Regions from separate parts of the Homo sapiens genome. Here all the other regions are linked to region 2. The links come from fine-mapping of genetic effects on gene expression. A gene starts in region 2. Each other region holds a variant in brackets. All regions are shown on one strand. Distances are from middle to middle.

Region 1 (10,208 bases), 33 kb before region 2:
ACTTTGGGAGGCTGTGATGAGAGGATTGCTTGAGAGCAGGAGTTCAAGACCAGCCTGGTCAACAGAGCAAGACCCAATCTCTGAAAAAAAAAATTTTTTTTTAGAAGAAATTAGATCTTTATTTTTGACATTAAGGGCTGGGCGTGATGGCTCATGTCTGTAATCCCAGGACTTTGAGAGGCCAAGGCAGATAGATCACCTGAGGTCAGGAGTGTAAGACCAGCCTGGCCAACATGGTGAAACCACCAGCCGTGGTGGCTCGCGCCTGTAATCCCAGCTACTTGGGAGGCTGAGGCAATCTGCTTGAACCTGGGAGGCAGAGGTTGCAGTGAGCCGAGAGCACGCCACCGCACTCCAGCCTGGGCGACAGAGTGAGACCTCGTCTCAAAAAAAAAGACATTAGGAAGCATCCATTTTGAAATGACAGACTAAGCACAGTACCACCACCACCACCATTTTTATCCCAATGTCACTAAAATTCCTATTTATTAATATACATTGTGCTAAAAAACAAGAAAAATGAACTAGTAACTGACCAGAAAGTTGAAAGAAATATTAGAGAAAAAAGGATAAGACTAATGGAGACTAATGGAGAAAACAGAAAAATCTATAGCCCAAATCACCAAAAGGTAAGGAAAGAACTTTCCTAGCAAGCTCTGGAGAAGACCTAATTTGGACATCAAAATGGAGCTTTCAGACACTAATCAAGGCCATTAATTAAAAAAATTTTTTCAGAAAAATAAGGCAGGTTGGATCTCTTTTCCCACTTCATAAAAGCAAGATATGTAAGACTAGCATCTGGTTTTTGTCCCAATAAAAAAATCCCACAACTTTCAAGATATCACTCTAGCTTTCTAAAGTAGAAAGGCAATTCAGGCAACAAAAAATATTTTTTAAAAATCTAGGCCTGGCATGGTGGCTCACACCTGTAATCCCAGCACTTAGGCAGGCCGAGGTGGGTGGATCACGAGGTCAGGAGTTCAAGACCAGTCTGGCAAACATAGCGAAACCCCATCTCTATTAAAAATACAAAAAATCAGCTGGGCGTGGTGGCACGCACCTGTAATCCCAGCTACTCGGGAGGCTGAGGCAGGAGAATCACGTGAACCTGGAAGGCAGAGGTTGCAGTGAGCCGAGATCATGCCACTGCACTCCAGCCTGGGCAACAGAGCAAGACTCCGACTCAAAAAAAAAAAAAAAAAAAGATGTTATTTGATGTTAATATATTAATGTTTTACATGCATATGAGAGTCTCATGGAAAAGGAAGTAAAAACCCAAAGAAGCAGTGAGGCCTGAGAGCTTATATGCCATTTTAACAATGAACAACAAATTTGTGGAGAAGTGACAAGACAAAGAAAAAGAGCTCGGGTTTCTAGGGGTGATAAATATATGCAGGAAAGTAAGTGGAAGATAACAGCTATTTTAGTGAGGTTTGATTATGCAGATTCAAGCTAGTGCCATCTCTAGCGATAAGAGTCATCTCTTTCTGGTGTGGGAGAGGGGTTGGGGGAAACCTTCACAAAGAGAAAATTTATTCCCTGCTTTTAGACAGAAAAGAGAAGGGTAGAGAGCTTTTCCTGTATGTGCTGTTTCTCAATTGCCTTCAGCTCAGAATCATCCTCACACCAAAGTGGCATATTTTGAGCTAGCATGTTCTGATCCCCTTCAGAAACAACTCATCAACTCAACTCATGATTCTTTTTGTTTTTTTTTTTTTTTTTTTTTTTGAGATGGAGTTTCGCTCTTGTTGCCCATGCTGGAGTGCAATGGCGTGATCTCAGCTCACCGAAACCCCTGCCTCCTGGGTTCAAGCACTTCTCCTGTCTCAGCCTCCTGAGTAGCTGGGATTACAGGCATGCACCACTGCGCTTGGCTAATTTTGCATTTTTAGTAGAGATGGGGTTTTTCCACTTTAGTCAGGCTGGTCTCAAACTCCCAACCTCAGGTGATCCGCCCGCCTCGGCCTCCCAAAGTGCTGGGATTACAGGCATGAGCCACCGTGCCTAGCCCATGATTCTTGAATCTGGTAAATAAAGAGAAGGAATCAACCATTTAACTTGTCCTTTTGTATTTGATACTTAAGTGCACCACTCAGATAGGCCCCTTCACAACTGAGATGCTCGTTCAGTCCCCAGGAGCCTCCACTGCTAAAGTTCCTCAGCTGAGCCACTCCCAGGAATTGTTATTGGGTAAGGGGAGCTGTCTTACTCAAGATTACATCCTCAACCCAAGGTCAGCCCACAGTGATTAGTCAATGCATGGGCGGGGTGGAGGGTATAAAGGCACAGCCTTAACTTTGAGGAGCTATGCCGGCTTTAAAGCTCACTGTAGGATTGTCTGGGTTCTTTAAAATTCCATCACAGTTCAACTTCTTTCTCACTCTGTCCAGCACTTTCCTCACTTTCTTACAGGTGTTGTTCCCTAGGGCTTCCTGCTTTAAACCTGTGACATGCAATTTTCATCTCAGAGTCTGTTCTCCTAGAAACTGAGCTATGATACTTTCCCACATGAAATACACCTCAGGGTAACAAAATAGTTGATGAGGGAAGGTTCTCTCAAGAATAAATAGAGACTACTCTGGGCACACTGCCTATGGGTTATCCCTGCTCCACAAGGAGCAATACCAAAAAGGAAAATAATAATTAAAAAATAAATTTGTAATGAAAAAAGAATCAATAATGGCAGGGCACGGTGGCTCATGCCTGTAATCCCAGCACTTTGGAGGCCAAGGCGGGCGGCTCAGTTGAGGCCAGGAGTTCAAGACCAGCCTGGCAACATAGCAAAACCCTGTCTCTACTAAACACACACACACACACACACGAAGGAAAAAGAATAAATAGAGAAACAACGATATAAGAATAACACCACTGGCCGGGTGCGGTGGCTGGCTCACACCTGTAATCCCAGCACTTTTGGAGGCCGAGGTGGGTGGATCATGAGGTCAGGAGATCAAGACCATACTGGCTAACACAGTGAAACCCCGTCTCTACTAAAACTATAAAAAATTGGCTAGCAGTGGTGACATGCACCTGTAGTCCCAGCTACTCAGGAGGCTGAGGCAGGAGAATCATTTGAACCCAGGAGGCAGAGGTTGCAGTGAGCCGAGATCATGCCACTGCATTCCAGCCTGGGCGACAGAGAGAGACTCCGTGTCAAAAAAAAAAAAAAAGAATAAGACCACTTTGCAAATTTCTAATTACATACTCTAGGCAATGATCATCAGTGGCTGCTAATATCACAAAAAGAGAGACCACTAGATATTATATGCCTCCTGATGGAAGTACACACCACCACCTGAAGGTATTCTTGCAAAAAATTTTAAACTGAATCAGACTAAATCTCTAAATCCAGCTAACAGTTTATAAGAGATACAAATACGCAGAGGATACAATCAGAAAAATCCAGAATGTAAGAGACTCAACTGGACAACCGAATTTCTTCAACATATAGCTTGCAAGGGAAAAGAGAGAGAGAGGAAGGAAGGAGAAACTTATGAACAAATTACAAACAAAGGGACTTTATTTGGTTTGTGATTTTTTTAAAAAGCAAAAACTTTTAAAATTTTTTTAGACAATCAGAAACTTGAACCCTCATTAGGTATTTGATAACATTAAAGAAATACCAGCCACACACGGTTCAAGCGATTCTCCTGCCTCAGCCTCCCAAGTAGCTGGGATTACAGGGGCCTGCCACCACATCCGGCTAATTTTGTATTTTTAGTAGAGATGGGGTTTCACCATGTTGGCCAGGCTGGTGTTGAACTCCTGGCCTCAGGTGATCCGCCTGCCTTGGCCTCCCAAAGTGCTGAGATTACAGGCGTGAGCCACCGTGCCTGGCCAACAATTAATACTTTTTTAGTGCAATTATTTCTCAAATATTTTTACTTGCTAAATCTGGCAACCCTACTTCAAATTCTTTTTCTTGCTTTTGCAGTTAATCATTTTTTGTTTTTTTTTTTTTGTCACAATTTGACTGCCTGTCCTAAAATGTTATCCATATGGTACTTCATTAAGGCAGCTAATATTTAAAACCTCTCATGTTAAGAAGCCGAGGGAGATTTCTAGTATTGTCACCTTAGAGATGGCAGTTCTGGCACAGGTATTTAATTTTGAGATCTCAAAATACCAGCAGAAAAATTGTCCCCTAGAGAATGAGGAATCTGGAAAGTGTTTTTGACAGATCTACCACATTCTTATACCACAAATGCTGCCACGTTGTTCTCTCTCCTCCTCCCCTTTCCTTTGCAATAACACAAACTGTATTAATCAGCCAGATAATGGCAGTGGTGAGTGGCGTTGATGAGAGCCTCCACTGTACTGACTGTGCTTACCCTCCCAGAGGTATGGCTTGAGGTGGGAAAAATGGAAACCAGAAAGTGGTCCCTTTAAAGATGACACATCTCTTCTATGTCTCCACAAAAGGAGACTCATATTTGTATTGTTTCAAAGCACTGTACTTTCCTACAGTTTGCTACTCAGAAAAGCTGGGAGTGGTTGAAGAGGTTAAACAACTGGCAAAAGGTTACACAACTTCGCTGGATCTTATATTTCTGATTTGCATCCCAGGATTCTTGGCACCATAATCTGGATAAGGTTGAGCTTTGGTAAAGTTAGAGAATCTATACACTGGAGTTCCTATGAACTGATCACAGTTCCAGTCCCAACTTTTAATCCTTCTAAGTAAGGGGCTCACTATGTACATAGCCTCAGACTCTCGGCTCATTCAATCACTCAGTACAGATTTCATGAACGTTGGACTAGCTATGAAGAAACAGTGATGGACAAAACAACAAAAGTCCTGTCTTCAGAGAGCTCACAGTTTAGGGGGAAACAGATAATTAAATATGTAATGACGATGAAATCTGATGAGTGTGGTGATAGGTGTCAGAACATACACTAAGAGTCTCTAACCTCTATGTTGAGGAAGGCTCCCAGAGAAAGCAATGTTTAAGCCTAGACCTAAAAGATGAATAAGAATGAGATAGATAGGTGTAGAGAGAGCGAGCAGGCAGAAGAGTGTTCCAGGTGGTGGGAATGGTGTGCAAAGGCCTGGAGGAGAACAGAGGTAATGCGGGGATGGGATGAGACAGAGCAGAACTAAAATGCAGGGATGCATGAGACAGGTCAGTAATTTTGTGCCTCTTCAAACTAATCTTTTTGACATATCTTTTTTTTTTTTTTTTGAGATGGAGTCTCGCTCTAACACCCAGGCTGGAGAGCAGAGGCACGATCTCCGCTCACTGCAAGCTCTGCCTCCCGCCTCCCAGGTTCAAGCCATTCTCCTGCCTCAGCCTCCCGAGTAGCTGGGACTACAGGCACCCGCCACCACGCCTGGCTAATTTTTTGTATTTTTTTAGTAGAGACGGGGTTTCACCGTATTAGCCAGGATGGTCTCGATCTCCTGACCTTGTGATCCACCCGCCTCAGCCTCCCAAAGTGCTGGGATTACAGGTGTGAGCCACCGCGCCCGGCTCTTTTTGACATATCTTAAA[A/C]ATATTTATTTAAAGGAAAGGTTTATTAAGTCTGGAGAAGATGTGAAATGTAGTGGAGAGAATGCTGGTGGCTCCCCAGTGACTCCTTTGTGATCCTAAACAGGGACATTTGCATGCCTTGGACCCAAATCTGCAAAGCAAATCAGCCAAACAAAAGGCCTGCACCTAAGACCTGACCTCCTTAGACGCAGTTAAATGACCATTGATTGTGACTGAAGCAACTCCATGGGGTGCTTGTCCCCTCCTCCCAGTCACCACCCTAAGAAGCTTCTTCTTCTTTTTTTTTTTTTCTGAGACGGAGTCTCACACTGTCACCCGGGCTGGAGTGCAGTGGCGCAATCTCGGCTCACTGCAACCTCTGCCTCCCAGGTTCAAGTGATTCTCCTTGCCTTAACCTCCCAAGTAGCTGAGATTACAGGCACCCGCTACCACCCCTGGCTAATTTTTTTGTATTTTTAGTAGAGATGGGGTTTCACTATGTTGGCCAGGCTGGTCTTGAACCCCTGACCTCGTGATCTGCCCACTTCGGCTTCCCAAAGTGTTGGGATTACAGGTGTGAGCCACCTCACCTTGTCGAAGCTTCATTATTTCTATCTCATTGTATTTATATTTTTTGTTTTAGCACTCTTCCTGACTGGCTGGCTTTCCCAAATTCTGACTTGGTGGGAGGGAGATATGAGGCTGAGGAACTGGCAGGGGCCAAGAGTGTGAAGTTCACACATAGCTCACTCACTGGGCTGAGTCTTCAGGCCCATGCACAAGAGCACATCTTGACTAATTGCTGATGTGGGAGCAGCAATGTGGAAGAGAGCTGCAGTCCTCGAACCTCCTTAACGCCTTACAGATTCCTTGGTCCCATTCCTGACATAATTAAAATCAGAATTTCTAGGGATGGAATTTTGGAATTTGTATTTTCAAATTTCTTTCTGGGTGAATCTGGTATTAAACAACTCTGGGGCTCACCAGACTCTGTTGTAAAAAGTACACATTTCAGAGCCACTAAAACCTCAATTCAAACTCTGGCTCCAGCATTTACCTGTGTGATCTTGGCAAGTGGTTTTTTGTTTCATTTTGTTTTGTTTTGCCTGAGCTTCAGTTACTCCAGTTGGAGGAGGAGGAGGAGGAGCAGGAGGAGGAGCAGGAGGAGGAGCAGGAGAAGAAGGAGGAGGAGAAGGAGGAGGAGGAGAAGAAGGAGGAGGAGGAGGGAGGGGGAGGAGGAGGAGGGAGGGGGAGGAGGAGGAAGGGGAGGAAGAAATAACCTGGCAAATGGTTTTTTGTTTCATTTTGTTTTGTTTTACCTGAGCTTCAGTTACTCCAGTTGGAGGAGGAGCGGGGGGGGGGGGGGGGGGCGGGGCGGGGGCGGGGAGGAAGATATAACACGGCTAACTTCATATTATTAAAGGGTTAAATGAGATCATTAATAGCTAGTACTTGACCCAGTAGTCTATAATAGTAGTAGTCCCTATCTTACCTGACCTCACCTTCCCAGGATGCCAAGCTCAATTCTGGTACTAGCTCCCCCTGCAGCCCTACTTGCCCTCTGCTTTTATTTCCCAAGAACTTGTATTTTAACCTTTTTTCATCTTATAAGCAGCTTCTGTGGGGAATGACAGAGACAGTGGTCACTCCCTGCTGAGAAGAGGGACTGAAATTGAAGCCATGGGAAAAGGAGTCTGTTTAAACATTTCCCACCCCTGTCTGAGGCCCCACCTCAGGCACAAAAATCTTCCCAAGGAGCTGGTCATCCCTCCTAGTGAATGGATAAAGTTGCTGTAGGCTGATGAGGGTCAATTTGACTTTTTCTTGAACACCAGGCTCAGCACACAGAAATAGTTCTAAGGTAGTGGTGGCACATACACTGTGTTCCCCTAATGATTGGGGGGATCACTTCCAAGCACATCCATTCTTTTATTTATTTATTTTTTTATTTTTTATTTTGAGACGGAGTCTCGCTCTGTCGCCCAGGCTGGAGTGCAGTGGCGCGATCTCGGCTCACTGCAAGCTCCGCCTCCCAGGTTCATTCCATTCTCCTGCCTCAGCCTCCCGAGTAGCTGGGACTACAGGCGCCGACCACCACGCCCGGCTAATTTTTTTGTACTTTTAGTAGAGACGGGGTTTCACCGTGTTAACCAGGATGGTCTCCATCTCCTGACCTCGGGATCCGCCCACCTCTGCTTTCCAAAGAGCTGGGATTACAGGCGTGAGCTACCGCACCGTGCCTACATCCATTCCTTACTAAGAAAAAAACTGTCTATGGAAACAAACATCAGAATTCCCTTTAAACGCTGGGTGCAGTGGCTCACGCCTGTAATCCCAGCATTTTGGTAGGCTGAGGCGGGTGGATTGCCTGAGCTCAGGAGTTCATGACCAGCCTGGACAACGTGGTGAAACCCCGTCTCTACTAAAAATACAAAAATTAGCTGGGCATGGTGGTGCATGCCTGTAATCCCAGCTACTTGGGAGCCTGAGGCAGGAGAATCACTTGAACCTGGGAGGCAGAGGTTGCAGTGAGCCGAGATCATGCCCCTGCACTCTAGCCTGGGCGACAGAGTGAGACTCCATCTCAAAAAAAAAAAAAATTAAAAATTAAAAAAAAAAATTCCCTTTAACATAAGTACTGGGATTGCTTAGCACATTTTTGTCAGAATCGAGAGTATTCAAACTTGTTTCCATTTTCCTCTAAATATCCTTATAAACTAAGCTAAAGCACATTGTTTTATTAAAAACAACATCTTTTCTGATGGTAAAATTGGTATATGTTCATTAAACACAATTCAGAAAATAACAAATATACTATGTAAAGAAGAAAAGTTAAACCATCTCTAATCACCACCATGAAATAATAAAATTAACATTTTGATTTATTTCTTTCAAGTATTTTATATGCTTGAAAGAATATTTAGTAAAATTTGCATAATTCAATAGACTGTTTCTAAATCATGTTTTTTCACAATATTATATTGTGAATCTTTAGTATATTGCTAACAATTTTCAAAACTAAATTTTTATTGTTAACAATACTCTAGCATATAAATATTCTATAATTTATTTCCCTGTTGTTGGACTTTTGAGGTTTTTTTTTTTTCATTTTTTCTGCCATAAATATTAAGAGCTAAGTTTCTTGTTTACACTTTATCTTTGGGAAAACTGACTTAAAGAGGTTAAAGGGCTTGCTGCAGGGCTGGAACTGGAATACAAATTCTATACTACAGTCTAATTCCCTTTTTCATAGACCACAAATATTAATTTGTTGTAACACTATTAATCAATGCTTAGAGCATATTTGCCACTTCAATACATTTTATTTCCTGGCCTTTATTTTATTTATTTATTTATTTATTTATTCATTTTTTTGAGATGGAGTCTCGCTCTGTCACCCAGGCAGGAGTGCAGTGGCATGATCTCGATTCACTGCAACCTCCGCCTCCTGGGTTCAAGCAATTCTCCTGTCTCAGCCTCCCACATAGCTGGGATTACAGGCTGCACCACCATCCGCAGCTAATTTTTGTATTTTTAGTAGAGATGGGGTTTCACCATGTTGGCCAGTCTGGTCTCAAACTCCTGATCTCAGGTGATCCGCCCACCTCAGCCTCCCAAAGTGCTGGGATTACAGTCATGAGCCACCGCACCTGGCCCTGGCCTTTATTTTAAAAGTAAGCATTGGCTGGGTGCAGTGGCTCATGCCTGTAATCCCAACACTTTGGGAGGCAGAGGCAGGTGGGTCACCTGAGGTCAGGCATTTGAGACTAGCCTGACCAACATGGTGAAACCCCATCTCTACTAAAAAAAAAAAAAAAAAACACTACAAAAATAAGGCAGGCATAGTGGCATGTACCTGTAATCTCAGCTACCTGGGAGGCTGAGGCAGGAAAATCGCTTGAACCTGGGAGGCAGAGGTTGCAGTGAGCTGAGACTGCACCACTGCACTCCAGCCTGGGCAACAAGAGTGAAACTCTGTCTCAAATAAATAAATAAATAATAAAAGCAAGCATTACCAACAATGTGGGAGAATATGAGTGGAGTATGTATGTGGTCCCAAAGTTGGGGTAAGTGGGAGTGAGGAACCCCTGTAACTCCCATCTTCATTTCTGCCTCTTCTCATTGCACCAACTTCCCCAACTGAAACACCTTATACTGATAATATCCCTTCCTGGTTTGATTCATAAAACAAAATAAAGTTTCTCCAGTGCTTGGCATATTCATCAAGACATCAGCCCCAGCATTTACATTTTAGTGCTTCCCTTTCTTTACTTGATTTCCAGTCTCTCTCTCTCCCTCTGTCTCTCTCTCTCTCTCTCTCTCTCTCTCTCTCTCTCTGTCTGTCTGTCTCTCTCTCACACACACACACGCAGGCTGATTGGTCTTTGATTTTCAGTAGAAATTGTTGGTATTTGTAGCTGTGCTTGATCACATAGGTGAAAAGATATACTTACAGAATAAGAACTACCCTATGACCGTCCTTCTTTCATGTTGCTTAAAGCTATACTTCAAAGGAATACAGCACCACTTTAAGGAAAGACTCAGGCCTGAGGACCTAGAAGCCCAAGTTCCAAGTTTTGGGGCTGAGCTCTGTTACTAACTTCAGTCTGACCTTGGACAAGTTTCTTGTCTCTGTGATCACATTCCATCTTTATTAGAGGATTTTGAGGATTCCTTCTATTTCTGACATGAAATAATTTTAAACAGACTTGTTCCTTAGATGCTCTTTTAGAACAT
Region 2 (10,208 bases):
AACTCTGATTCCCGAATTCTCGAGGAGGCTGATTTGAGTAATAATAAAACTCCAGTCTCCTGTACAACCAGTTCTGTGTGAATTAAACTCTTCGCTACTGCAATTCCCCTGTCTTGATAAATTAGCTCTGTCTAGGCAGTGGGCAAGGTGGACCCTTTGAGTGGTTACAAGGGGTGCATTCAGTGGTGTCGAGAGGTTGGTCTTGACTCTAAGGATGAACAAGTACGGTCAAAACCCTATGGGGGATTTCTGCCTGCTTCCAGGTAACTCTGGAACCTCAATACTACCGAATTTGAACCAACACATGGGAAGTGAGGAAGTGGGGCAGGAGTCGGGGTGTGGAACAGTGCAATACCTAACCAGACCCAGAAATCCAATAGGTATTATCACTAATGGAGCTTTAGAGATTTCCAGCAATCCTTTAGGAGACTGGGGCTAGCCTGTGAGCTGTAGACAGTCCAACTGTCCTAAGTAAAATACAGTACAGCCGTATTGTGCTTCATCTTCTGATCTCAACTTATCCTCCACCCTCTCCCTGCTCCCAGCTGCCCCACTCCTACACCACAATGCTCTCAGAAGTTGTGTAGCACAATGTACAAGAAGTTGCAAGTATTATTCTCAAGGAAGTACAGTATATGATGGGAAGGAGAGGGTTCTATTCACCAAAAATCATCTTAAGAAATAAGGATTTCTACTTTGGGAGGCCAAGGTGGGCAGATAACCTCAGGTCCGGAATTCGAGACCAGCCTGACCAACATGGTGAAACCCCGTCTCTATTAAAAATACAAAATTAGCTGGGCACGGTGGCGCATGCCTGTAATCCCAGCTAATCGGGAGGCTGAGGGAGGAGAATCACTTGAACCCGGGAGGCGGAGGTTGCGGTGAGTCAAGATCACGCCATTGCATTCCAGCCTGGGCAACAAGAGCAAAACTCCATCTCCCCTCCCCCCAAAAAAAAAAAGAAAGAAAGAAGGATTTCTTTGTTGAAAAAATTCTTTGACAGTTGCTTGGGGGTAGAAACTAACACCTGAGGGGTACAGATTTGGGTGGACTATCTGCAGAAGGCAAGCAGATGACTTTGTATGTTGTTCCACAGAGGGAATGGGAAGAGGAGAAAGGAAAGATAAGAGAGACGGGATGGAACCAGGAGATGTGAGCTCCTTGCCAGCCTGTCACTTAGGGCAGAAGGCAGCTTTAACACCATTAAAAGTCAATTTCAAAAAGTGTCTGTTTTTTAGCCGGGTATGGTGGCTCATGCCTGTAATCCCAGCACTTTGGGAGGCCAAGGTGGGCGGATCACCTGAGGTCAGGAGTTTGAGACCAGCCTGGCTAACATGGTGAAACTCCGTTTCTACAAAAAAAAAAAAAAAAAAAAAAAAAAAAAAAAAAAAAAATTAGCCAGGCGTGGAGGCGCGTGCCTATAATCCCAGTTACTCGGGAGGCTGAGGCAGGAGAATCGCTTGAACCTAGGAGCCGGAGGGTGTAGTAAGCCGAGATCGTGCCATTGCACTCCAGGTTGGGCAACAAGAGCAGAACTCCATCTCAAAAAAAAGTTAAAAAAAAACTCTGTTTTTAAAATATTCCAAAAAACATACAAAATATCCTAAAATTATGGACTCCTTTGAAGTACAATTATTTTGGTAAAAGATGAAAGATTTATAGGATCTGAAGAGAAACTAGAGAATCAAGTACAATTATTTGGATAAAAGATAGAAAAAGAAGAAGAAAATTTTTAAAAAGAAAACATTTGCATATAACAACTTTCTGAGCTTCTTGTTAAGAACCTGGTGAGCAGTAGGTGCTCCAAATTATTTCCTGCGTGAGTGACTCTCCTGCCACTCCCCACTTTCCCAACCTGTACTTCACACTCCAGCAACTACTTGTATTTCCTGTTTGCCATGCCTTTTCTCACTGTGTGTCTGTTGTGGTTGGAATATTCTCTGCCTATCTTTCCTTTCCCCACCCTCCTCCAAAAACACACTCTCTTGCCCACTAAGCAAGTTACTACTCATTTTTATCCCTGCCTCCTACTGTCTCCCATGGGAAAGGCAGTCTCTCATTTCCACCAGGTTTCAACTCAACAATCACAGAACTAGGCTGAGTGCAGTGGCTCATGCCTGTAATCCCAGCACTTTGGGAGGCCGAGGCAGATGAATCACCTGAGATCAGGAGTTCAAGACCAGCCTGGCCAACATGGTGCTAAAAATGCGAAATACTAAAAATGCGAAAATTAGCCGGGCATGGTGGCAGGCACCTACAGTCCCAGCTACTTGGGAGGCTGAGGCAGGAGCATCACTTGAACCTGGGAGGCAGAGGTTGCAGTGAGCTGAGATCGTGCCAATGCACTGCAGCCTGAGTGACAGAGCAAGACTCTGTATTAAAAAAAAAAAAAATCACAGAACTTCTCATTAAGGCCATCTCTGGCCATCTACTAAAATGCCAGCATCCCCACCCACACCCTCAAATCTTCACAGCCCTCTTCTGTGCTTTTCTCCTCAGTTCTTACTAATATTTAACATATTATATATTTTAACTTATTTGATCTGTTGTCTGTCTCCTTCAGTAGAATATAAAATCTATGAAGACATGGATTTTTGACTTTTTGTCTGCTACTCTGTCCCCCTTGCCTAGAACAGGACTTGATACACAGCGAGTGCTTAATATATGCAGAACGGATGGATGGATAGATGGCTGATTGAAGCTGCAGCTCAGGGACCATCTGTACCTGGAACCTCCAAGCAGATTTAGATGTTCTTTCCTCCTATATATATCTGCTCTTATCATATTGTATTAATACTTGTTTGTATGTTATTTTCCCCTCTGGGCTAGAAACTAATTTAAGGTTCAGGGCCTAACTGCTTCATCTTTATATAATTGGAAGTGAATATTTAGAGCTTGGTACCTGATATGTCTTTTCTTCTTTTTCTTTTTTTGAAACAGAGTCTCGCTCTGTCGCCCAGGCTAGAGTGCAGTGGCACATCTTTTCTATTTTTATTATTATTTATTTAAGACAGAGTCTTGCTCTGTCATCCAGGCTGGAGTGCAGTGGCATGAACACGGCTCACTACAGCCTTTAACTCCTGGGCTAGAGCAATCCTCCCACCTCAGCCTCCTGAGTAGCTGGGACTACAGGCACGTGCCACCACGCCCGGCTAATTTTTGTATTTTTAGTAGAGACAGGGTTTCACAATGTTGGCCAGGCTGGTCTCGAACTCCTGACCCATGATCTACCCGCCTCGGCCTCCCTAAGTGCTGGGATTACAGGTGTGAGCCACCGCGCCCAGCCTAGGTTAAATAACTTCTAAGGACACAACTAGTAAGCTGCAGCATTAAGATACTAATTCAAACGTATGTCATGCACCCCCTTTATTTTTCATTCTCATACTATCTTTTCTTCACCCTGCCACCTCTGCCCTACCATGTTCTGTCCTGCCCCCACATTTTTTATTTATTCATAGTCTACCCACTACTGCTAGTTCAAATTTCACATATTCAATGAAATCTTCCTTGATTACTCTTATTCATGTTAATTTCTCTTTTTTTTCCAGAAGGCTCCTGAGATAGCTCTCACGGTAAATGGGGGAGGTTATGACATGGGGCATGTGGCCTTGGAGAATAGCCTATTCAAGTCCTAACTGCTTTCACACTCAATATATATTCAGACTCTCCATGCAAAGGCCAATTTGTTTTGCAGGTAATGGATAAAGAACGAATCTCACCCTCCAGTGGTCCCCAATTTCAGGTAGTGTTTTCTCATGATATGGATGTATCTCCTAAGGCTGATGTGGCTGATGATGGATGCAATTGTTTGCATTATTTGGCTGAGTTAAGTTTCCCAGGAGTAGCTGCAGAATGGAGCAGATTTACAAGGGTTATCCGGACAAACAGCATCCCCACTTTGGGACTAGCATTTAGGACACCAGAAGTCTTTCCTTTCCCTTCTCCACCCCTGCTTCTGTTGGAAGCAGACTTCAACCCCTCCCAAATCTGACTCCTTCAGGGTTCCTACATGAGAAGCAAAAGCTCATTTCCTATTCGCCATTTCCTCATGCTAACACATCCAAAACAGAGAATTTTTGTTGGCTCAGCTGCTTTAATTTTTTTGGTAGAGGAAAATATATCAACATTAGAAACCATTGATTTTTGTTGCTGATGGTCCTTAGAAAGTAATGCAAAAAGTTGCTTAGAGTTAAAAAAGTATGCCTGATAATCTGCTTTCATTTCCTCCTTTCTCAAGGTGATACAATTACAATCAGAACCTGCAAAAAATCCACAGTAAATTCTTCTCTAATGCCTTTTGCACTTAAAATCTTTAGTAGATACCTTAGCATCTTATTCAGTAATAACATGCCAACTTAGTCTGTAACTAAATATTTGGTCTTCAATTGTGACTACATAAAATGCTGAAATATCTATAACTTGGGAAGCAGCAGTTATAAATGCAGGTCTGGTATTAGACAACCTGTGTTCAAATCGCACCTCTATCGTTTATTAACTGTGTGACATTAAGTTCCTTAACGTCTCTGATAGCCTCATTTTCCTCATCTTAAAATGGGATCCTATCATTTCATAAAGTTGTATTCTATATGAGTAATTAATAATGATAATAGTTCTTTGAAGGCCTACTACACTAGGAATTATGTTGAGCACTTCACACTCATTTTATCTAATTGTGAGAACAGGGCTTCGTACACTGTAGACAACCAAAACATACTGAATGATTGAGGCGGGGCTAATGAGGTCCGCAGCTGGCACGCCATTAGAGGAGTCGCGAGTGGAGCTCAGTCATGTCTGCCCACAAAGCGCCTGCGCTTGACCTCTACGTTATATTTACTTTGGCAATGTACAAAGTGGTGAGGACAGTCCTAGCCCGGAGGGCCCCTAACACATTGTCGTCTTCTTATCCTCGGCCCTCTGCGTTAGAGAGGGCTGCCCCGAATCGGCTTTGAACGCTGACTCGCCCTTTTCCAGTCGGCCCTTGAGCCCACTAGTCAGGGCTACAGCGTTTTCCTAACCGAGGTTCAGAGGTGAGATGGAAAATGTACCCGTCTTTATTCTGTTCTCTCCCCTGCAATGACAGGGTGAATGGCGGTGGGGTTGGGGGCACGTCTCCAGAGTCCCAGTCCGCTCGGGACCCGCGGACCGCCCGGAGGCGACAACGGCCCTGAAATTGGGGGGAGCTTGTTTCCAGCCGGACTGTGTCCCTGGGCGCGCCAGAGCGCCGCGCCTGCGCGCTCAGCCCGTTGCCGCGCCGGCCCTGCGGACGTGCGCGCGCTGCCTTCGCGGCACCTGGGCCTGAGGTGCGTGCCTCCCGGGCCCTCGCCAGCTCCAGATGCGTGAGGAGGACTTCAGAAACCCGACTGAGAAGTGGAGCGACCCCCAGGGAGGGTCGGACCTGCCTCAATACCGCCAAGGTGCCTGGGGACCCAAGAACGGGGGCTCCACAACCTCAGTTCCTGAGCTCCTTTTGCTTTCTCACTTCCCCACCTATTGAGTGCGTCTCACGCGGAGCAGAAATTTGAGAGGAAGGCGTAGAGGGATTTTTTTTTGTTGTTGCTGTGGGTTGTATCACATGTGGCGTTTTCATCCTGGCTGCAGCCAAAGCAGTTTTTACCCTTACCCTTCCTTTCCTGGCGTGGGATTTTGTGGTTTCTGGACTCGGCTCGACCATTACGTGCTTATTATTGGTTGTGGGCCTTTAGAACGAGGACTGTGTGTCAGTGTCCTTTGTCCAGTGTAGTCCACTGGGAGGGAGAGGTGAGGGTTCAAGGCCAAGAGAATGGGCCCGGGGCGAGTGGGGCAGAAGCAGCCGCCGGAGATTATTCCCCAACTGAAAGTTGTGTGTGTTTCTCTTAGGTCTTTCATTTCTTGTTCGCTTACTTTCGTGAAATCCTCACATCGTTTTAATGGTACTAGTCAAGACAAGAAAATCAACAGGCTTTCAGCCTTGAGGCAACATTGGATATTATTGAGGTCAGTTTTTACAGTTTTTACAGTCTTCACGTAGAGTATCTTGTTCTTGTCAGGATAAATTCTGGATTGAACCACTGAGCAGATCTACTATTCTTTTATTTCAGTTTAAGATAAGAAAAATTACAGTCTTTTTTATTTTTATGTTATCAACAAAAATCGGTTGAAATGGGATTTGGAGCTCCATGAGTGCGTGAGGTGAGGATCCCTAACCTGACTCTCATAAACAGGAGATAGGATCACCACTTGCCACTAATGGTTCTAACAATCTAGGGCTCCCAGTAAGTGCTTTTCCACGTGGTGGGAGGCAAGTGACAACAGTTATCCAATCTTAGTGCTAACAATGGATGATTAACCGTAGCTCCTTTTTGGTACAGGAGCTGTAGGTAGCCAATCCCTGTTTTAATCAGAGGTAGTTGTGGTGTGTGATTTTTTTCTTTTAGGCGTGTTCCACGAAAGCATTTATTAAAGGGAAGAAGAAACATACAAAAGGAATTGAATCTGGCTTTATACCAAAATCCTGTGTGATCATTCAGTCCTGACATTGGACAATTACCAGGCTTTGCCTGACTGGCCTCAAGGGCCAAGCTGTCCTCCCACACCATACTCGATATGGGCCGGTGCATTGCAGTTTTCTGGAGGGGGTTGCAGTCAAGGACTTGCCCTGCCCCTCCTGCTAGATATGCAAATCCCATAACTTCTTTCCTAGCCTGGGTACCTCCATTTGGAGGCCCTCCTAGGAAGGACCGTGGCTAAGACACTTTTCTCCATTTTTGACCCAGCTTCTTTCACTCCTAGACCTTCCCCTCCCTTTCCTATTCTGAAGTTCCATAAGAGGCAGGAGATTTTTGTTAGGGGCTCCTTTCAGTGAGAGGATTACCTCATATGCACTGCATCAACTGACCCTCACCCAGTGTCCTTGTATTTAGTAGACCACTGGGGAGCCAGTGCCTCTTTTTACCACTTGCTTGCACTGTCACAGTAAGTGAATAAAGGCTTGATTACTTTTGGTTTGACTCATTGTCCTGATTGACTACCTTGGCACCTAATTGCTGCCAAGTTCTTTGCAGTTCACTGGATTCATGACTTAATTTTAATTATCATGACTGTTGCTCTGTATCGGCATGTTTAGAGACTTTGGAGCTTGTTCACCTCTAATTTCTCTAATTCAAGCTACTGAAAATGCATATTCATAGCACCAAGAGTTGATTGTTGGTTAACATTGATATCTGGGTTATATGATATATTTTACTACTATACTGGCTTACAGTCAGATTGTTTTATTTTGCGTGGATTTATGTGGCATTTTCCATTTGGCCTGTAATTAGATGATTTTTATTTAAAATAAATATTTTGGAATAATATGGGTCAAGTGAAGAAAACCAGACACTTGCTTTCTTTAGTAATCTTGTCTCATACTATGGGCCCCTATCTTTCTCACCTTAATAGATCACTTGGCCACTTTGAATAAAGTGGTCGATTTGTTGTAGGTTCCTTTGTCTAGTATGAAGAGGCATGTTAAGAACAGCTTTCATAAACTTTTTTACTTCTTCCTACAGAAGTTTCACAAAACAATATTTATCCTTGCTATATAGTATGCAGTCTGATACTTTCTACTATTATTTATCCCCTATTTTTATTTATGTATTTATTTTTAAATTTTTTTTGAGAGTCTTGCTCTGTCTCCCAGGCTGGAGTGTGGTGGTGCAATCTTGGCGGCTCACTGCAACCTCCGTCTCCTGGGTTCAAGCAATTCTCCTGACTCAGCCTCCCAAGTAGCTGAAATTACAGGCATGTACCACCACACTCAGCTAATTTTTGTATTTTTAGTAGAGACAGGGTTTCACCATGTTGGCCAGGCTAGCCTCGAACTCCTGACCTCAGGTGATCCCCTGCCTCGGCCTCACAAAGTGCTGGGATTACAGGCATGAGCCACTATGCCAGCCTCCGCTCTTATTTTAAATAACAAAGTGCTGATCATGATCTGCTAAGTTGAATTCACAATCCATTAATGAGTAATATCCTGCAGTTTGAAAAACACTGTGATAAAGTAACTAAAGATATTTGTTCAGTAATTTTTTTTTTCTGTTTCTGATTCACATTGCTAAAGAACCACAGTGGGTATGTTTGTGATTTGGGGTTGAAGGTATCTTCTAGGAGAAAATAGTAACACCGTGTTTGTTGGATGTTTGCCAGATCAGCTGACAAAAGAACTCCAGACTTAGAACTCTCTGATCTAGAAGATACATTATATTGAAAGAGCTAGCACAGCTTTTAATTTTTTTTTGAAAAAATCTCTGACTCCTTTATTTAAGGGCAGTGCCATAGTAAAGTAATAATGAAAAGAAAATTGGCTTCTCTGATAGAAGATAGAGTATAAGATAGTTATGAAAGTGCTTGCTAAACTTTTTTTTTTTTTTTTTTTTGAGACAGTCTCTCGCTCTGTTGCCCAAGCTGGAGTGCAGTGGTGCAATCTTGGCTCAGTGCAACCTCCGCCTCCCCAGTTCAAGCAATTATCGTGCTGCAGCCTCCCAAGTAGCTGGAATTAACATATGTGCACTACCACGCCTGGCTAATTTTTGTATTTTTAGTCGAGACGGGGTTTTGCCACGTTGTTCAGGCAGGTCTTAAACTCCTGGCCTCATGTGATCTCCCTGCCTTGGCCTCCCAAAGTGCTGGGATTACAGGTGTGAGCCACTGCACTGGGCCAGTTTTTTAAATCTTTATATTAACGCTTAAGACCAAAATGACCCTTTTACTATATTGCCTGATGGGCAAAGCACACTCAAGTTTCAATTACTTAGTCATAGATAGCTATATAAGTAACCAATTTGTCGATCTTATTACCTCTATGCTTGTCTTTTGGGAATTTCACAACAAAGTGAAAAGGAGAATTTTTTTTTTTTTTTTGAGATGGATTCTCACCCAGGCTGGATTGCAATGGCACGATCTCGGCTCACTGTAACCTTTGCCTCCTGGGTTCAAGTGATTCTCCTGCCTCAGCCTCCTGAGTAGCTGGGATTACAGGTGTGCACTACCACACCCGGCTAATTTTTGTATTATTACTAGAGGCGGGGTTTCACCATGTTGGCCAGGCTGGTCTCAAAATTCCTGACCTCAGGTGATCCACCAGCCTCAGCCTCCCAAAGTGCGGGATTACAGGCGTGAGCCACGGCGCCAGGTGAGAAATTTTTAAAACCTGTAAATTTAGTCAGTGGGTTTATCTCTTATTGAGAAACGCTTAAAAATGTTACTAAGACGATAAGGATAACATTTTAAAATTTGATTAGTGTTGAGCTAAATAGTTCCTTAGATTTATGTATTGCTTCACTGTTTTTTAGCACATTCATATACATTATCTCCATTGATTTTTGACAACAGCTTGTGGTGGTAGACAATCCAGGAGACCTTTTCCCCATTTTACAGATGAGAACTCTGTATTTCCTTCTTCCTACCACCAAGATCGTATAGTGGCAAATCCAGGACTAGAACCCAGGTCTTCTGTGAATTTTCTCCTAGTCCACACTGTCCTTGTTGGTCTAAAGAAGTAATTGAGAATAACTCATGTTAAATTTGTGGCTAAGAAATCCACCTATGATAAGTGAAATGTTCTATTCTAAGAGCATATTTACAATGTGCTATAATTGAATGCAAGTATATCTTATTTTTAGTATTATGTTTTGATTTGTTACCTTTCTAGCCCATTTTTTAAAATGATGGCAACTAAATACTGGCAAATCTACCTAATAATGAAATAGGAAAATTGGAATTAAAATATCTATTTCATGTTAAGAAATTCAGCCTAGTCCTCATTTAATGTAGCATCTCAATTAGAAAAATAGCTTAAAATTGTATTGATTTTTAGATATTTCTTTTAAAGACTCATATCTCTGTATGTATAAAATTAGTATTATTATTCTAAAGTATTACTTAAAATGATTATTAACTTGTAAACACTAAGTCCAGATTCTCCTTTGCCTTTAATATCTTCAGCCAAAGAACAACTTAAGTTACTTTTCATATGAATAAATAATTTTAAAATTAATACTTTTTTTCCTTTAATTTTTAGACATCTGTGGAATTTAAGAACAGTATGGAGCTCATCAGAGTATATCATTGAAGAATATGATGGCTGAAAACAATTTAAAAATGCTAAAGATTCAACAGTGTGTGGTAGCCAACAAACTACCTAGAAACAGGCCATATGTTTGCAATATTTGTTTTAAGCACTTTGAAAC
Region 3 (10,208 bases), 62 kb before region 2:
TCGCGCCACTGTACTCCAGCTTGGGCAACAGAGCGTGACTCCATTTAAAAAAAAAAAAAAAAGAAAGTTAATTGGACTAAGTTAACTAAGAAGCAATTTGTCATTTGTTTATTGATGTACAAGTTATCTAGAGCGGGAAGAAAAGAAAAGTGACATTTGTTGAGCATTTACTGCGGGACAAGTCCTGAACTGGGCACTCTACACTCAGATAGTTTTATTATTTTTTTTTTTTGAGACAGGGTCTCTCTCTGTTGCCCAGGCTGGAGTGCAGTAGGGCAATCTGGGCTCACTGCAACCTCTGCCTCCCAAGTTCAAGAGATTATTGTGCCTCAGCCACCTGAGTAGCTGGGACTACAGGCCTGTACTGGCACACCAGGCTAATTTTTGTATTTTTAGCGGAGACAGGGTTTCGCCATGTTGCCCAGACTGGTCTCAAAACTCCTGGGCTCAAGTGATCCGCCCGCCTTGGTCTGCCAAAGTGCTGGGATTATAGGCGGGAGCCACTGTGCCCAGCCAAGAATACCTTTTAATTTCAGGACAGCCCTCTGAGATGAGCCTTGTTAAATCCATTTACAGACAACCATGACTCAGAGGTGTTAGGTAACTTGCCCAAGTTCCTACAGGGAAGAAATAGAGTAGAAGAGATGGGTTCAAGCCTAGGTCTATCTGAGGCGAGTGCCTACCCTCTTTCCCCTATACCAGAATAGCCAGGAGCTTTAAATATCTGAGCTAATTACACCCAGAGGTAAAATGTACACAATTATGTGCATATTATGTAGTTGCAATTTACTCTTATCAGATGGATAAAAATGAAAAATTGGTATTTTTACACAAATAGGACAAATATCCTTGTGGGCACCTAACCACTAAGTAAGTAGCAAGGAGAAAAATAACTAAAGGTCCAATCTGGTTTAAACCTTTGTCTAATGTTACCATTTAGGATCCCTTTGTTTAATGCTCCATTTCTCTAGATAAAAGTGTTTGGTGATTTATTGGTCTTCTACCGGCTCCTCTCTAAGATGGCATTAGACTACATGAATGCATGTAGAATTGGGTTGTTTGTCCAGAAACTTTGCAATTTCATGATGGATGGGGTCAGAGACCTCAAGCATGATGTCCTCTAGCCCCCTGATCTGCACGTTCTTGTCATTTGTCCACCCGGGTACTGCTGCCCTGCTAAGGTCTGCTGCTTCTGTTGTTTGTGCCTTGTCCTCTGATTTCTTTAGACTTGGCCAGAGCTGGGTGGTGCCTCCCGGCTACTTAGCAGCCTCACTTCCCTCTTGTTCAGGTTCTTGCTGGAGTCTCTGAGGAGGTCTTCCTACAAATCTCATTTGGGCTGCAGACCAGCACTGCCATCAGCTAAAGTACGATTTTTCTTCTTTGCTCATCCTGCCTCCCCTAGACACATACACTGACACCACAGACACACATGGGCACAGATCTCAGTTAGCCCTCGGGCAAGCTTTCCCATCAACACCCTCAGCATGGTCAGTGTTCCTCCTGGATACCTTCAGGGCATCGTGGAAGCTGGGCAAGACCCCTGGAGGCCCGAACTCTGCCTACCATGTTGTGCCACTCCTTCTCCAACATTAGCATAGAGTATCAATCAATTTTTTGGTCTTATGCACCCACTTTTAGGTTTAGTCAGCAACACAACTATGCCTAGAAAATGTGGGCCTCAATATTTTTACACAAGACAAAAATGAACATCAAGAAAAACCTTAGAAGGTAATTTGGGGAGTGAGAGTGAGAACAGCCTCAAATGTGCAATCTGTGGACTGAAAGATTACTGGAAGGGGAGAGAGACGGGCCTGCTGATCTCACCTTGACCATGGGGAGATTCGCAAAAGCGGCTGGAGGCAGGGCACGGACGTGCATTATTTCTACTTACGCATTAGAGCTGCTTTTCCTTCCTAATTAGGTTTTTGTCTTTTTTTTTTTTTTTTTTTTTTTTTGAGCCGGAATCTCGCTCTGTCGCCCAGGCTGGAGTGCAGTGGCGGGATCTCGGCTCACTGCAAGCTCCGCCTCCCGGGTTCACGCCATTCTCCTGCCTCAGCCTCCCGAGTAGCTGGGACTACAGGCGCCTGCCACTACGCCCGGCTAATTTTTTGTATTTTTAGTAGAGACGGGGTTTCACCGTTTTAGCCGGGATGGTCTCGATCTCCTGACCTCGTGATCCGCCCGCCTCGGCCTCCCAAAGTGCTGGGATTACAGGCGTGAGCCACCGCGCCCGGCCAGGTTTTTGTCTTTTACTTAGTGCCAGCTAACATAGCCACTTCCTTCTATGAGTCCTGCTATAGTCTGGTCACTGCAGGCCAACTGGGCCAACCTAGAAATGAGCCTTATTCCAGGGATGACCTGATCCTCCCACCAGTCTCCTCTACCTTCCTCACCAGCATCTCCTCACCTGCTCCATCCGCTCTCAGAGCCCCCAAAGAAGTCGCCAATGTACAGGGCAAGCACCCACACTTGCTACTCCCACCCTCACTCTCAAAGCTTCAACACTGGAGTTTGTATTTTCTGTTGGGCAGATCTGGAATAGAGTATTGATTGTCTCTGCCCTGTTTAAGCTGGCTACGAGGGTTGCCAGATGTCTAATTTCAAACATTTAAACCTTTTTCTGAGAAAGAAAAAAACACCAGATGTATAAATGTCCAGAATTAGAAAATATGTCTTTTCTCAAAATGTAACTTTAAATTTCTTTTTTTTTTTGAGACGGAGTCTCGCTCTGTCGCCCAGGCTGGAGTGCGGTGGCACGATCTCGGCTCACTGCAATCTCCGCTTCCCGGGTTCAAGAGATTCTCCTGCCTCAACCTCCTGAGTAGCTGGGATTACAGGCATGTGCCACCACACCCAGCTAATTTTTGTATTTTTAGTAGAAGCAGGGTTTCTCCATGTTGCGCAGGCTGGTCTTGAACTCCTGACCTTGTGATCCGCCTGCCTTGGCCTCCCAAAGTGCTGGGATTGCAGACGTGAGCCACCATGCCCAGCCACTTTAAATTCTTTTAAAGTAACCAAATATTCCCAAGTATTTCCAATCTTCTATGACTGCCCTTGTTTTAATACTCAAATAAAATGGCTGGGCCCAGTGGCTCATGCCTATAATCCCAGCACTTTGGGAGGCCAAGATGGGTGGATCACCTGAGGTCAGGAGTTCGAGACCAGCCTGGCCAACATGATGAAACCCTGTCTCTACTAAAAATACAAGAATTAGCTAGGTGTGGTATCACATGCCTGTAGTCCCAGCTACTCAGGAGGCTGAGGCTGAGGCAGGAGGTGGAGGTTGCAGTGAGTGGAGATCACGCCACTACACTCCAGCCTGGGCAAACTCTTGTCTCAGGAAAAAAAAAAAAAAAAAACTCAAATAAAATGACTCAGGCTATGGAAGAAAGGTCCAAAAATTTCCCTGAGGCTTCCCAGAGGCTCAACTTCCATACCCTCACTCAAACTGTCCATTTCCACTAAACTCTTGGTATCATTAGCTTACCATCTCTTTGCTTGAAGTGAGTACATCGCCCCTGCACTCAGCTTTGCTTCATTCACCCAAAGCACTACTCACCCAAGGTTTTACTAATTTGGGGCATTCATTCAGTCATTGAACAAATATTTATTGAGCAGCTAGTATAGACTAGGCCCTGTTTAGGCCTTCGGGATTCAGCAGCAAACAAAAGAGACAAAACTCTCTGCCTTCATTGAGCTTACATTCCAGGGGAAACTCTCGGCCAATAAATACAACAAATGACATGCTATATACTGTGTCTGGTAGTAATATGTACATAGAGAAAAACAAAGTAGACGGGATGCAGAGTGCTGGGAGGAGAGTGTGATTATTTTCGTTTTTTTTTCTTTTTTCTTTTGGGTTTTACTATCTACATAGGAGTTTAATTGTTTAAACAGAGGAGTCAAAAAGGCTTCACTGAGGAGACTTAACATTAGATAAAGTAGGCTGGGCACAGTGGCTCACGCCTGTAATCCCAGCACTTTGGGAGGCCGAGGCGGGCGGATCACGAGGTCAGGAGAGCAAGACCATCCTGGCCAACACGGTGAAACCCCGTCTCTATTAAAAATACAAAAAAAATTAGCCGGGCGTGGTGGCGGGCGCCTGTAGTCCCAGCTACTCGGGAGGCTGAGGCAGGAGAATGGCATGAACCTGGGGGGCGGAGCTTGCAGTGAGCGGAGATCGTACCACTGCACTCCAACCTGGGCGACAGAGCGAGAATCTGTCTCAAAAAAAAAAAAAAAGTTAGATAAAGTCATGAAGGCAGCACTGGAGACAGCCATACCTAGGTCTGGGGGAAGGACGACCCAGGTAGAGGGAGCAGCAGGTGCAGTCCCTAGGGACAACATCAGGAAGCCAGTGTGGCCACAGTGGGAACGAGCGAGGGCAGAGCCAAGATGTGATCATAGGGGTAACAGGCCAGGGGTAGGTGGGAAGTGGATTGCATGGGCCAGTAGGCCAGTGTGACCATTAGCTTTTACATGACTATTGCAGGCTCTGGAGTAGAGGGGTGATACAATCTAAGTTACATTTTAGAAGGATCATCTGGCTCCTACATTGAGAAGAGAATGAAACAGGCAAAGGTGGAAGCTGAAAGATGACTTTGGTAGCCATTACAGTAACCCAGGCTAGAGCTGGCTGCTGGAACCAGTGTTTAGGCGATGGCACTGGGAGGAGTGGTTGGGTTATGATACATATTGAAGGTCTGCCAACAGGACTTGCAGATGTGAAAGAATGAGAGGAAGCGAGGATGAAACTTAGGTTTTTAGACTAGGTTTCAGCCTAGGGATGGTGTTGTCATCTACTAAGATGGGAGAGAAAAGGAGTAATAACAACACAGATCAGGAAAGAACATTCAACACAGGTCAAGTTGAATGTCAGGCACAGCAGTTTCTCTGGGCTGTGTCCCTGCAGAGTCCTAACCTCTGGTCTTTTTTCTTTCTTTCTTTCTTTTTTTGAGACAGGGTCTTGCTCTGTTGCCCAGGCTGGAGTGCAGTGGCACAATCTCAGCTCACTACAACCTCCGCCTCCTGGGTTCAAGTGATGCTCCTGCCTCAGGACCCTGCAAAGCCCTACTAATTTTTGTATTTTTAGTAAAGACAGGGTTCCACCATGTTGGCCAGACTGGTCTCAAACTCCTGACCTCAGATGATCCGCCCACCTCGGGCTCCCAAAGTGCTGGGATTACAGGCGTGAGCCACTGCGCCCAGACCCCAACCTCTGGTCTTATTGCTGGCCTCCTGTCTCTCCACATTCTTTTTTCTCTGCCACCTCTTCCAGGCTTCTAACCACCTTCCTTGAGCTACTAAACTAGAAACTCCAAGATTTTTATTATTTATTATGTTCCAATGAATAATCTATGTGATGAAAAAAACTGAAGAAAGCAAGTTCTCAGACAAACTGATTACAAGAAATGTCAAGAGTCTCATTTCAAGTTTGCTGCCAGGACAGAGCCCTCTGAGCAAGTTATACACAAGTAATTCTCTCTTGAGAGAAACATCTATGAAGAAGAAGAAAAGGAAAAAAGAAGAC[AAG/G]AGGAAAAATAGAATGCAAAAGAGAAAGAAAGAGGAGGTGTTACAAGAAAGAAGACAAGGAAGATGAATAAATAGAGGATGGATGAAGACTATGTCCAACCAACTTTCCAGAAGAGGTCCTCTTCACAGTGACATCTATCAAGCCTTTGATTAGGAATGCTAATTACTTCCCAGAAGAGGCCCAGTACCTTTTAAACTATGGAAGAACAGTTCTGCCCCTTGCCAGACTTGGGACCATATTCTTTCTCATTGTTTCCCTCCTCTCTATCCACAACAAATAAACCCTACCAAGTTTTATATTTTCCAAAGAGAGATGAGTACTACCCCTTCACTACAGTGCTTCAAAGTAATAGCCATTTCTTTGTGTCTAGCCAGGATTTTTTTTGCCCATAATGTTATGCTCTAAAGGAAAGGTTTCCCTTAAGTCATATTGTGGTCTGACTTCTGCACATGTGCTGTAATTGGTGTTTTTTGTTTACAGGGCTCCACTGGTGGTAGGCTCTAGAATAGGAGTTTGGCCAGGACAGTAACAAAAGCACCAACAGCTCAAAGGACCAATCTTGCCAACATCATTTTACTTAAACTCTCTATTAAAGAGAGTTTCTAACATATGCAAAAAATAGGCAGACTTGTACAAAAAACTTCCTAACACCCATCACTCAACTTCAACCGTTATCAATACAGCTAGTTGTATTTAGTCTGTATCCACACCCTCTTCTCTTTCTCTTGCATTATTTTGAAGCAAATTCTAGACTTCATATCATTTCATCTGCAGATTTTCACTGTGTTATCTCTAAAGAATAAGGTCGGCTGGGCATGGTGGCTCAAGCCTGTAATCCCAGCACTTCGGGAGGCCGAGGCGGGTGGATCACCAGGTCAGGAGATTGAGACCATCCTGACTAACATGGTGAAACCCCATCTCTACTAAAAATACAAAAAATTAGCCGGGCGTGGTGGCAGGCACCTGTAGTCCCAGCTGCTCGGGAGGCTGAGGCAGGAGAATGGCATGAACCCGGGAGGCAGAGCTTCCAGTGAGCCCAGATCACACCACTGCACTCCAGCCTGGGCAGCAGAGCGAGACTCCGTCTCAAAAAAAAAAAAAAAAGAATAAGGTGGATTTTTTAACATATAAACTCAATACCATTAAATCAACAATAATTCATTAATATTAAATATTCAGTAAGAGACTTCAAATTCTCAACTGCTTCAAGAATGGCATAATTTTATTTTATAATGTGTTTGTTTCACTAGGGATACAAATGAAGTCCACATGTAATTGATTGGTAAGTCTTTTATGTATTTTATATAGGTTCCCCCACCCCTTCCTTGCAATTTGTTTGTTGAGGAAACCAGGTTTTGGGTCCTGTAGAATTTCCCATAGTCTAGATACTCCTCACTGCCCATCTGTGATGTAATTTATCATGTATTTCCTATAAATCAGTAGACAAATCCAGACACTGCTGGCTTGTTTTAAAATCACATTTGCCACTTACTTTATTACTATTTCCATTATGTCATCTTACAATTTCTCAGAAGTGTTACATTTGTCTAAATATCAATGTCTCAAATCTTGCAACATTCTTTTAAGGTAAGAAACATTTCATAGGTTTATTCCAAAAGGGCTAGCCACCTTAAATCAAATATTAGAGAAAAAGTATTATTTTAGAACCAAAAATTCAATGATAGCTTTTTGGCACAAAAGTTTTATTCACATTGAGAACAAAGATTGTCCTAAACATTGTCTGGAGGCAGAACTTTTTTATGTGATATAATTCACAACCTCCTCTGGGAAGTAATTGGCATTGCTGTTAAAATGCTTGAGCACTTTTCTGATAGACCTGAATGAGATTAAGGACTTCTGGGAAGCCAGGGTTACCCACCCAGCTGACTGGCTAGCCTAATAATCTTTAACCAGACATTATTTTTTCTTGTATCCAGTTTAACAATGATTAACCATTCACTTTTCCTATACGATTCCTAAAGGGAATCTTAAATTGGCACATTTAAAGGTTTCATCCCTTGTGCCTAGCTAGAAATAAAGCTCTGACCCAGGTTTATAATCCATTTGTCTAAGAAGTTGTTTTAACAACACTTAGGAAGAAATACTGTATGTTTTTACTACTTCATGTGGCTAAAACTGATCATTGAAAGGTATTAAATATATGTGCAGGAGCCCTTAAATGTATGGAAAATTGGTTTATTTGAATTCTCTCAGCACTTTTATTTGACTAATGGAAATAAATTTTTCTTCTTTGGGTAATGTAATTCATACTTAGCCACTATCATGGAGTAAAAGATCTTCCTTCAGATTCTTTCTTTTTCTTATTCTTATTCTTTTTTTTTTTTTTTTTTTTTTTTTTTTTTTTTGAGATGGAGTTTTGTTCTTGTTGCCCAGGCTGGAGTGCAATGGCATGATCTCGGCTCACCACAACCTCTACCTCCCGGGTTCAAGTGATTCTCTTGCCTCAGCCTCCCGAACAACTGGGATTACAGGCATGCGTCACCACACCCGGCTAATTTTGTATTTTTAGTAGAAATGGAGTTTCTCCATGTTGGTCAGGCTGGTCTCAAACTCCCGAACTCAGGTGATCCCCCTGCCTCAGCCTCCCAAAGTGCTGGGATTACAGGTGTGAGCCATGGCGCCCAGCCCCTTCGGATTCTTTCTATAAGCAAATTGTGCCTTGGACATAGGCTTTGAATGCTTTGAGAGAACCTCTCTTCATAAGTGGAAATAAAATCATGATTTAATTGTATCAAACGCATTATGGATAATCTATGGGATTTAATGAATCAATAGGTGAGGCTGAGTTGGTAAGAAGTGAACGTTACTTCTGCATTTAAAAAAATACATTTAACTCAATAGGAAGTAACAGATGAGTAATTGGAAAACATTTTAAACTTGATCATAAAGAAATAAAAATTGGCCATGTGCAGTGGCTCATGTCTGTAATCCCAGCACTTTGGGAGGTAAGGCGGGCAGATCATTTGAGTTTAGAAGTTCAAGACCAGCCTGGGCAACATGGCGAAACCCAACCTATACAAAAAAATACCAAAAAATTCGCTGGGCATGGGGGCACGCATCTGTAGTCCTAGCTACCCAGGAGGATGAGATAGAAATGGATGGCTTGAGCCCAGGAGGCAGAGGTTGCAGTGAGCCGAGATCGCGCCACTGCACTCCAGCCTGGGTGACAGAGCAAGACCCTGTCTCAAAAAAAAAAAAAAAAAAAAAAAAAAAAAACAGTTTCCAGCCTTGACCACATAATTTTGAAGCCCCTCACTCTATCTCAAATGGTTAGCCAGCTAAAAATCTTCACACAGAATTTATGTTGATATGCAAAACAGCAGGCCCATTCTAGAAAGCCAGAGCCCAGGTAATTCATACTGGCTCATCTGTTTTCATCAGTCTATACCAAAAGAAAACAGGACTCTCAAATTAAGAAAATGGAATCTAGGGGTAACTGGGAATAATATGATCTCACAGCCTTTTTCAAAGGATTAAAAGTGATAGATATATAAAGCACAAAGCACAGTGTTCATTGTATACATAAGGTACTTATTTTAATATAGTGTTATTATTTAATATACTACTTATAGATAATATATAATATGTTATTTATATATTGTGATATGTTAATTTTTTTTTAGATGGAGTCTTGCTCTGTCTCCCAGGGTGGAGTGCAATGGTGCCATCTCGGCTCACTGCAACCTCCACCTCCCGGGTTCAAGTGATTCTCCTGCCTCAGCCTCCTGAGTAGCTGGGACTACAGGTGCGCGCCACCAAGTCTGGCTAATTTTTGTATTTTTAGTAGAGATAGGGTTTCACCATGTTGGCCAGGCTGGTCTTGAACTCCTCACCTCAAGTGATCTGCCTGCCTCGGCCTCCCAAAGTGTTGGGATTACAGGCGTGAGCCACCGCGCACAGCCAAGACGTATTAAATTAATAATATTTATAAGCTCCTTCTTTTTCCCAAAGTCAGAAGTTCCACACATGCTCAAGGTCAGGGGTTGTTAATGAAGAAAACCTAAGGTAACCGAAGTAATGATGTTTGTGTAGTGCTTAATAATCTACAAAAATTTGTGGGTTTTTTTTTTTTTTTTTTTTTTTTGAGATGGAGTCTCGCTCTGTCACCCAGGCTGGAGTGCAGTGGCACGAGCTCAGCTCACTGCAACCTCCGCCTCCTGGGTTCAAGCGATTCTCCTGCCTCAGCCTCCCCAGTACCTGGGATTACAGGCACACACCACCATGCCTGGTTAATTTTTGTATTTTTTTAGTAGAGACGGGGTTTCACCATGTTGGCCAGGCTAATCTTGAACTCCTGACCTTGTGATTTGCCCGCCTCTGCCTCCCAAAGTGCTGGGATTACAGGCGTCCACCACCACAACCGGCTAATTTTTTGTATTTTTAGTAGAGACAGAGTTTCACCATGTTGGCCCGGCTGGTCTTGAGCTCCTGACCTCACGTGATCCACCCACCTCAGCCTCCGAAAGTGCTGGGATTACAGGCGTGAGCCACCACGCCTGGCCCTACAAAAAGAGAACCGTGGAACCCAGCGACTAGTGTTCAGCTCAGTTAGGACGAACCCAGGCACTTAGCCATGCAGGAACAATGGCAAGACTTTAGCGCAATCAGAGCGGCAATGGGCGCATCGCTGGATCAGGAGCACAGTGGACACCCT

Alleles and levels. Alleles are on the strand shown, and positions count from the first base shown. SD is a standard deviation of normalised expression in the study named. Not every link is listed here.
For the expression in monocytes of the gene that starts at base 5,243 in region 2, AAG is the low allele of the variant in region 3 and G is the other (moderate effect, 0.61 SD a copy in BLUEPRINT).

What was found. PIP is the estimated chance that this variant, and not a neighbour inherited with it, causes the effect. A credible set is the group of variants that fine-mapping cannot tell apart.
Region 1: its variant is the best candidate, but not a certain one, in a credible set for the expression of ZNF770 in whole blood (INTERVAL, PIP 0.88).
Region 3: its variant is the best candidate, but not a certain one, in a credible set for the expression of ZNF770 in monocytes (BLUEPRINT, PIP 0.82).

The regions. Positions count from the first base shown.
Region 1 is chr15:35,016,015-35,026,222 of GRCh38, reverse strand. LOC105370763 (a long non-coding RNA gene) reads left to right here and starts at 9,433. Exons shown (of 3, transcript XR_932098.3): 1 at 9,433-10,208. RefSeq lists an enhancer at 5,401-6,093. The variant A/C (reference allele first, on the strand shown) is at 5,493.
Region 2 is chr15:34,983,322-34,993,529 of GRCh38, reverse strand. ZNF770 (zinc finger protein 770) reads left to right here and starts at 5,243. Exons shown (of 3, transcript NM_014106.4): 1 at 5,243-5,414; 2 at 5,857-5,973; 3 at 10,040-10,208. The coding sequence starts at 10,096. LOC105370764 (a long non-coding RNA gene) reads right to left here and starts at 5,172. Exons shown (of 5, transcript NR_188212.1): 1 at 5,046-5,172; 2 at 3,720-3,845. RefSeq lists enhancers at 1-312, 5,059-5,148, 6,555-6,604, 6,685-6,744, 7,728-8,380.
Region 3 is chr15:35,044,952-35,055,159 of GRCh38, reverse strand. No RefSeq gene overlaps it. Among named protein-coding and RNA genes, the nearest start is that of NANOGP8, 35 kb to the left of the region's middle. RefSeq lists a silencer at 1,861-2,093. The variant AAG/G (reference allele first, on the strand shown) is at 5,531.